Linked DNA regions of Homo sapiens. The protein of the gene in region 1 purifies or fractionates together with the protein of each later gene. This does not show direct contact. Each region holds a gene or a part of one and is shown in the gene's direction. Other genes may lie near its edges. The genes, in order: TEX36 and DRC8.

What was found.
Region 2: the proteins of TEX36 (region 1) and DRC8 purify together in Homo sapiens (affinity purification with mass spectrometry; one large-scale study listed by BioGRID and IntAct). This does not show direct contact.

What each region holds. Positions count from the first base shown.
Region 1 is NC_000010.11:125,662,508-125,666,341, reverse strand, and holds part of TEX36 (testis-expressed protein 36), read left to right. Parts: intron 1-3,834.
Region 2 is NC_000001.11:245,084,672-245,088,661, forward strand, and holds the end of DRC8 (dynein regulatory complex protein 8), read left to right. Parts: exon of another isoform or gene 1-2,088; coding exon of another isoform or gene 2,089-2,123; exon of another isoform or gene 2,124-2,573; coding exon 2,574-2,689; 3' UTR 2,690-3,166; downstream 3,167-3,990. UniProt on the Homo sapiens protein: Component of the nexin-dynein regulatory complex (N-DRC), a key regulator of ciliary/flagellar motility which maintains the alignment and integrity of the distal axoneme and regulates microtubule sliding in motile axonemes.

The sequences.
Region 1 (3,834 bases):
TACAGCCAACCCACAGCTAACATCATACTGAATGGAGTAAAGTTGAACGCCTTTGCTCCAAGAACTGAAACAAGACAAGGATTCTCACTTTCACCATTCCTATTCAACATAGTACTAGAAGTCCTAGCCAGAGCAATCAGTCAAGAGAAAGAAATAAAAAGCATCCAAATTGGAAAAGAAGAAGTGAAACTGTCTCTTTTTGCTGAGGACATGATATTATATCTAGAAAAACCTAAATACTCTACCAAAAAAAACCCCACTTAGATCTGATAAATATATTCAGTAAAGTTGCAGGATACAAAATCAACATACAAAAAGCAGTAGCTTTTATATATATCAGCAATGATCTAGCTAAGAAGGAAATCAAGAAGGCAATTTCATTTATAATAGCTACAAAAATATATAAGAATAAATTTAACCAAGGAGGTAAAATATCTCTATAAGAAAAACTATAAAACATTGATGAAAGAAATTAAAGATGACACAAACAAATGGAAAAATATCTCATGCTCCTGCGTCGGAATACATCATTAAAATGACCATATTGCTTAAAGCAATCTACAGGTTCAATGCAACCTCTATCAAAATACCAATGTCATTCTTCACAGAATTAGAAAAAACAATCTTAAAATTCATATGGAATAAAAAAGAGCCAGAATAACCAAAGGAATCTTGAGCAAAATGAACAAAGCTGGAGGCATCACTTATTACAAGACTATAGTAACCAAAACAGCATGGCATTTGTATAAAATTAGACACACAGACCAATGGAACAGAATAGAGAACCCAGAAAACTGATCTTTGACAAAGCCAATATGAACTTATATCGGGGAAGCAGCACCCTGTTCAATAAATGGTACTGAAAGAATTGGATAGCCACATGCAGAAGAAAGAAACTGGACACCTATATCTCACCATATAAAAAAATCAACTCAAAATGAATTGAAGACTTAAATATAAGATCTGAAACTGTAAAAAACACTAGAAGAAAACCTAGAGAAAACTCTTCTGAACCTTGGTTTAGACAAAAAATTTATGACTAAGATCTCCAAAGCATAAACAACAAAAATGAAAATAGACAAATGGAACTATATTAAATCAAAAAGCTTCTGCACAGCAAAGGAAACAATCAAAAGAGTAAACAGACAATCTGTTGAATGGGAGAAAATATTTGCAAACCATTCATCTGACAGGGGAATAATATCCAGAATATACAGGGAACTCAAACAACTCAACTGTAAAACAACAACAACAACAACAACAACCAAAAAACCAAGTAATTCCATTAAAAAGTGAGCAAAGGACATGAATAGACATTTCTCAAAAGAAGACATGCAAACGGCAAACAGGTATATGGAAAGGTGCTCAACATCATTGATCATCAGATAAATGGAAATCCAAGCTACAATGAGATATCATCTCACCCCAGTTAAAATGGCTTTTATCCTAAAGACAGGCAATCACAAATGCTGGTGAGGATATCAAGAAAAGAGAACACCTGTACACTGCTGGTGGAAATGTAAATTAGTACAGCCACTGTATTAGTCTGTTTTCACACTGCTATAAAGGACTACCTGAGACTGGTAATTTATAAAGAAAAGAGGTTTAATTGATTCACAGTTCTGTATGGCTGGGGAGGCCTCAGGAAACTTACAATCATGGCAGAAGGTGACAGGGAAGCAAGGCATATCTTACATGGCAGCAGGAGAGACAGTGAGCAAAGGGGGATGTGCCACACTTTTAAACCATCAGATCTCATGAGAACTCACTCACTATCATGAAAACAGCAAGGGGGAAATCCGCCCCCATGATCCAATCACCTCCCACCAGGCGCCTCTTCTGACATTTGGGGATTCTAATTCAAGATGATTTGCATGGGGACAACCATATTAGAGCCAAACCATAGTAGCCACTATGGAAAATAGTATAGAGGTTCCTCAAAAAATTAAAAATAGAACTACCATGTGATTCGGCAATCCCACTGCTAGGTATATACCCAAAAGAAAGGAAATCAGTATACTGAGGAGATATTTGCACTCCCATGTTTATTGCAGCACTATTCACAATAGCCAAGATTTGGAAGCAACCTAAGTGTCTATCAATAGATGAATGGATAAAGAAATATGGTACACATACAAAATGAAGTACTATTCAGCCATAAAAATGAATGAGATTCTGTCATTTGCAACAATGTAAATGGAACTGGAGGAAATGTTAAGTAAAATAAGCCAGGTATAGAAAGGCAAACTTTTCACATGTTCTCACTCCTTTGTGGAAGCTGAGTATTAAAACAGTTGAACTCATAGAGAGTAGAATGATGGTTATCAGAGGCTAGGAAAGGTAGTGGTGAGGGACATGGGGATGGAAAATGGTACAAAAATATAGTTAGGATGAATAAGATCTAGTAGTTGATAGCATGACAGGGGGGTGACTACAGTCAATCATAATCTATTGTACATTTTAAACTAAAAGTATAATTGGATTGTTTGTAACACAAAGAAATGATAAATGCTGGAGGTGATGGATCCTCCATTTCCCCTGATGTGATTATTACACACTGTATGCCTGTATCAAAATATCTTATGTACCCCATAAATATATACAGCTACTATGTACACATAAAAAATTTAAAAAATTTAAAAAAGGAGACATATAAATGGGAAACAGGCATATGAAAACATGCTAAACATCACTAATCATCAGGGGAATGCAAATAAAAACCACGATGAGATATCATCTTATCCCAGTCAGAATAGCTATTACTAAAAAGACAAAAAATAACAGATGTTGGCGAGGATGGGGAGAGAAGGGAACTCTTATACACTTTTGGTGGAAATGTAAACTAGTAGAGCCACTATGGAAAATAGTATGGAGATTTCTCAAAACTCTCAAACGAGAAATTACCATTTGATCCAGCAATGCTACTACTGAGTATCTACTAAAAAAAATCAATATATCTGAGGGATACCTGCACTTGCATGTTTATTGCAGCACTATTCACAATAGCAAAGACATAGAATCAACCTAAGTGTTCATAAATTGACGAATGGAGAATGAAAATGTGATTGCTATTTAGCCAAAAACATTTGCAAACTATTCACACTATTGGAGTGTATACATTTCCTCTTTGTATCAAATCTACCATATCAGGTAGGTATTATTATTCCCATTTTACAGATAGGGAAACCGAGGCTTGAGAAAGTTTAGTCTCTCTCATCAGGCTCACCTAGGAGATAGGAGAGAGACCTGGGGTGGACTCAGGACCTCTGAATGTCCAGCCTCTGACCCAACCACATTATGCTTCCTTCTCCCTTTATGGGAATTTTCATTGAATTGGGTCTTGTCTTTTTAATTTCCATTCATTTCCTCCTAGAGAGTCCTGCTTCAGAGCTCACTTTGTTGGGGTGGCTTTTAAGAGGCACCATTCAAATAACATTGGGGTGAGCTTCTCTTGCCATAAGAGCTAGCCACACCCCCCTTCAGGAATGAAAGACTCATCACTCTGGCTGCTGGGAGCATGGCCCTCACTGCCCACACCTACAGGTCTGTTATCTGAAGAGAGCTGCCTCCCTAGGGTCACGCCTTCTTCTGGGGGTAGCTCAGGAATAAATCCAATGCCTCATTGCTTGGTGCACAGAGACTGGGTCCCCTCTCCCCAGCTCTGAGTGGCCACCCAATGTCCAGAGCTCCCAGCCGGGTCAACAGAGGCCCTTGTTGGGACTACCCCTCTTCTGCCCAGTCCTGTTTCCTTCCCAGGCTTTTGTTGGGAGATTGCAAGGACATATTCTAGATAATCCTCAGTCCTCATTTTTCTTGCTTCACATCCTTCTACCC
Region 2 (3,990 bases), on another chromosome or scaffold:
CATACAAAGCTAGAGCTCTCTGGTTCACAGACTGGGTCCTGAATGACTCAGAGTTGCTAATCACTTGAGGCAGAATGAAAAGCGCAAGTGATTTTGAGTAGGGAAGACTAAGACTGCATCTACACGCACAACTGGTTTGACCATTCCAGCTTCATCCACCTTAAGGCGGAATACAGAGAGTGAGGGTCAGAATGGCAAGGCCGTCACAGCTGCCACCCAAGAACTCTGACGCCATTGTTAAAATTACCTTCGGGATTAATTCTGATGGGGATGTTACGACTTTCAAAGCATCAGCTTCTTCATCCTGAGGATTAGTCTAAAGAAAGTAAATCCTAGGTTATATATCAGGCAACATGAATTTAGTCAAAATGGCCCAAACAGTTAGATTTTCCTACTGTTGTGTGCCTACTATATGTTTAATATTTAGTAAGTGTAGTAAGGTATAATGATACTTAAATCTACTTCCTCTCTCAAGGATATTACAATCTTATTTGGGAAATAAAACTAACATAAAATAATTCACAATACAAGACAATAGAAAGCTAAATATCAGAAGATCAACTAGGGCTGGCCCAGCCTGGAAAACTTGGTTTGGGAAGACTTAAAGAGAAAATAGGTTTTTTGAGATGGTAGAATGTATATGGTTAAATTGTTGAGGGCAAAGGTAAACTCTTGTGCATTATAATTCTGTCACACATGGTAGATATCAACAAATGTTTGTTGAATGAATGAGTGAATGAGTAGATGATGAAGACCAGGTGAAGGGGCTAATGAGAGGGAGACATTATCGATGTGTAAAACAGTCTGAACAAAAATGGGGAGGTAGGAATGAACATGCTATTTCAGAGAGAAAATAAGCCTAGCTGGCCCAGAGGGTAATGTTGGCAAACAGCAGGAAATTAACTTCAGTAGACTTACTGGGACTAAATTGTGGAGTCCCAGGCTCAGGAGTTTGGAATTCATCCTGTGGGCGATGGAGAAGTATTACAGGCTTTTGAGCAGATGACTCACATGGTGTGTGAGTGATTGTGAGAAGGTTTTTCTGGTGCTGGTCGGTTTGTTAGATGCATAAGAAAGAGGTTGGACTAGGGAGGCCACTTAGAAGGTTATTTCAGCATTTTGAGGGCACCCAAATAAGGGCCTGACCTGGCAGTGGGAATGGCAATGGGAAGAAGGGATTGGTACAATAGGACTGTCTGTGGCAGGATCCATGGGTCATGATGAGTAACAGAGTGTAGGCGACAAAGCTGAGAGCTGAATCCAAAGTACCACCAAGGCTTTGCCCTCGATGGCGAGTATGATGGTAATGAGACTGACTCAAACAGAAAGGTCAGAACAGACCGCAGTGTATACAGAGACAGTGCGACCACGTGGTTTACTTGGAGGTGCTGTGTGATAATTTCGAAAATGGTATGTTTACAGAGAGTTCATGGTACTTAAAGATCAACTATTGAGTATCTCAGCGGACTAAGCATAGGACAGGTATGGTCAAATAAGAATACATATGTTTTCAATTATTCACTCAGCAAGTATTATTACAAACCTTCCACATATATGAACCAATATGTTTGGAAGTAATATGTAAGATGTAAATCTATACAAATCTAAGTTACGATTTAATATAACAGACCCATCAGCTAAGTGTAATAGCAGTTGACTAGTTTGGTAAAATAGGAGCTTAAGAATTGCTGCTTTGAGAGTCTCAGAATTCTACAAATTGTTTTTAAGTACATTTATGCTATATAACAATATGGATTCAAGCTACTTGCACATTCATCCTAATATCCACAAAGTATCAAACACACTAGTTTGAGAATATGCATTCCTACAGCCCTGGATGTCATATGATAAAATAAATCACACTGAATCAAGTTCCTACAAGATAGAAGTCCCTAAGTGTCCAGGAATGTGTATTGCATCAGACAGTGTTTAGCAGCCGGGAAGATCTCAGAACAATTTTTTAAACAAACACTTGCATGTTGCTGCTTCTATGCCAGGTACTGTTCTAAGTCCCATTCAAATCATAACACGTTTCATTCTCATGACAACCCTATGTGACAGGTGGTGTCGTTATCACCCCCATTCTAGAGACAGGTAAGCTAAGGTGGGGAGCTGTGAAGTGACTTGCTCAAGATCTCAGAGCTCGTGAGAGGCAGCCAGCATGTGGATCCAAACTTGTGCTTTAACCACTCAGTTATCTTCCTTCCATCTTTCATCAAATACTGGGGCTTCAAGTTAATCCTCTGGTAATTTCAAAAGTTTTAATCTAAATAAATAACCTTGTTCATGATGTCTGTATGTCTTCCTACTGTTTTGCCTGAAATGACGTGTTCTAGAGGTTGCTTGATCTATGACATCTGCAGGCTAAAAGAAGTCCAGAATCTACCAGGGTGTACAATAGCCTTGTCTTTGAACCTCTGGACTGTCGTGATGTCCTGGCTCTACAGCTCCAGGGAGCGTAACTAGTGGCACTGTGGGAGCTTGTGGGGCTCCATGGCTATTAAGCTGGCTAGTGGAAAGAGAAAAAAATCAGATGATCCTAAATGATAAATTTTCCTTTTTGTCTCTCTGAGGTGAGCCTTTTTCTCAAGAGGAAATGGAAGAAATGTTGTCTGCTGCAATTGATCCAGAATCAAATTCAATTAATTACAAGGACTATATAACAATGATGGTGATAGATGAAAATTAAATGTTCTAAAGATAATTTCTGATTGAAAGAACAATTTTAGAAATTGCTTGTTCTTGTTAATTTCACATCTTATCTTAGGATTCCTATATGTGATATTTAATACCTTGTGACATAACTATTTTAAGACACTTTGTTTTTAAAGATGATCGTAACACTTTAAACCAAATTTAGTATGTCTAGCCTTACAGAATGATAAATTACTATTTATTTAAAAACTATTCTTAAAACATTTTAACATTAGAATGGATTGTTGTTTATTTTCTACAATAAAACTCAGGTCACCTTCGAATTAATTAAGCTGACAAAATGAAAATGACTTAATTACCCAAGGTTTGGCATGTAAAGATCTTAAGAGGGGGCAGAACGAACCACTCGAAAACGAGTAGCAGTGTAATGAAGGCTTCTTTTTTAAACAATAACAAATGCTTCATCAATCTGAGTGTGGAAGGTGATTTATCAAAATAAATATTACTAATTTATTTTTTTATGAGTGCCAATTACAAATATCATTTGGGATAATAATAACTTAGTGTAAACATTTATATTTGCTGATCCAGCATGTCACCATTTATGGAGTAGCTAAAGGAGTTGAGATCATTGGAACTAGAGAAAAGAAGGTTGAGTGGAAGTTGATAGTGTAAGGTAGTGGCAATTCTCCCTTTGTCTTTAGAATTCTCACCCACTCCGCATATCTGTCATGGGAGCATTGTCCTGAATACTGAGTAAGAATACTGAGAAATGTTATGGTGTGCAAATGTACAGCTCCTGAAAGAGCAGAATGAAGCACAAGCAGTCACAATGGAAAAATATATGGCATGGCCACTGCCTCCTCCTTGCAATTCTCTCCGATCTTGGCATCTTATATGGCAACTATATGGCAACTTACAAGCAAAGGGGAAGATAAAGTAAAGGGAAGTGAACAATTTTCCAAACTTAGATATTCTGTTATAACAAGACACACACACACACACACACACACACACACACACGGGTCTCTATTTGAAGATGGCTTCACCACTATATGTGTGTATCTACATAGATGTAAACATTTAGAGTTGCTGTGAGCCTTCCTCAGGCATGTAGTCTTGCCCCCAAAAGAGGCGGCTGCTACCCAAGAGACTGTCGCTGTTCATTCATTCATGAAACACTGAAGGAGTACCATGAGATGATGTGCTGGGAACCGGAGTCCCTAACGAATCCAGGTCACAGTTTAGTGAGGGAAGCCTGCAAGGCAGTCAGCAGCCACATTTCAGATAGGGGCATGTTCAGGGTCCCGTGCAAGTGCCGAAGAGAGGCAGCTA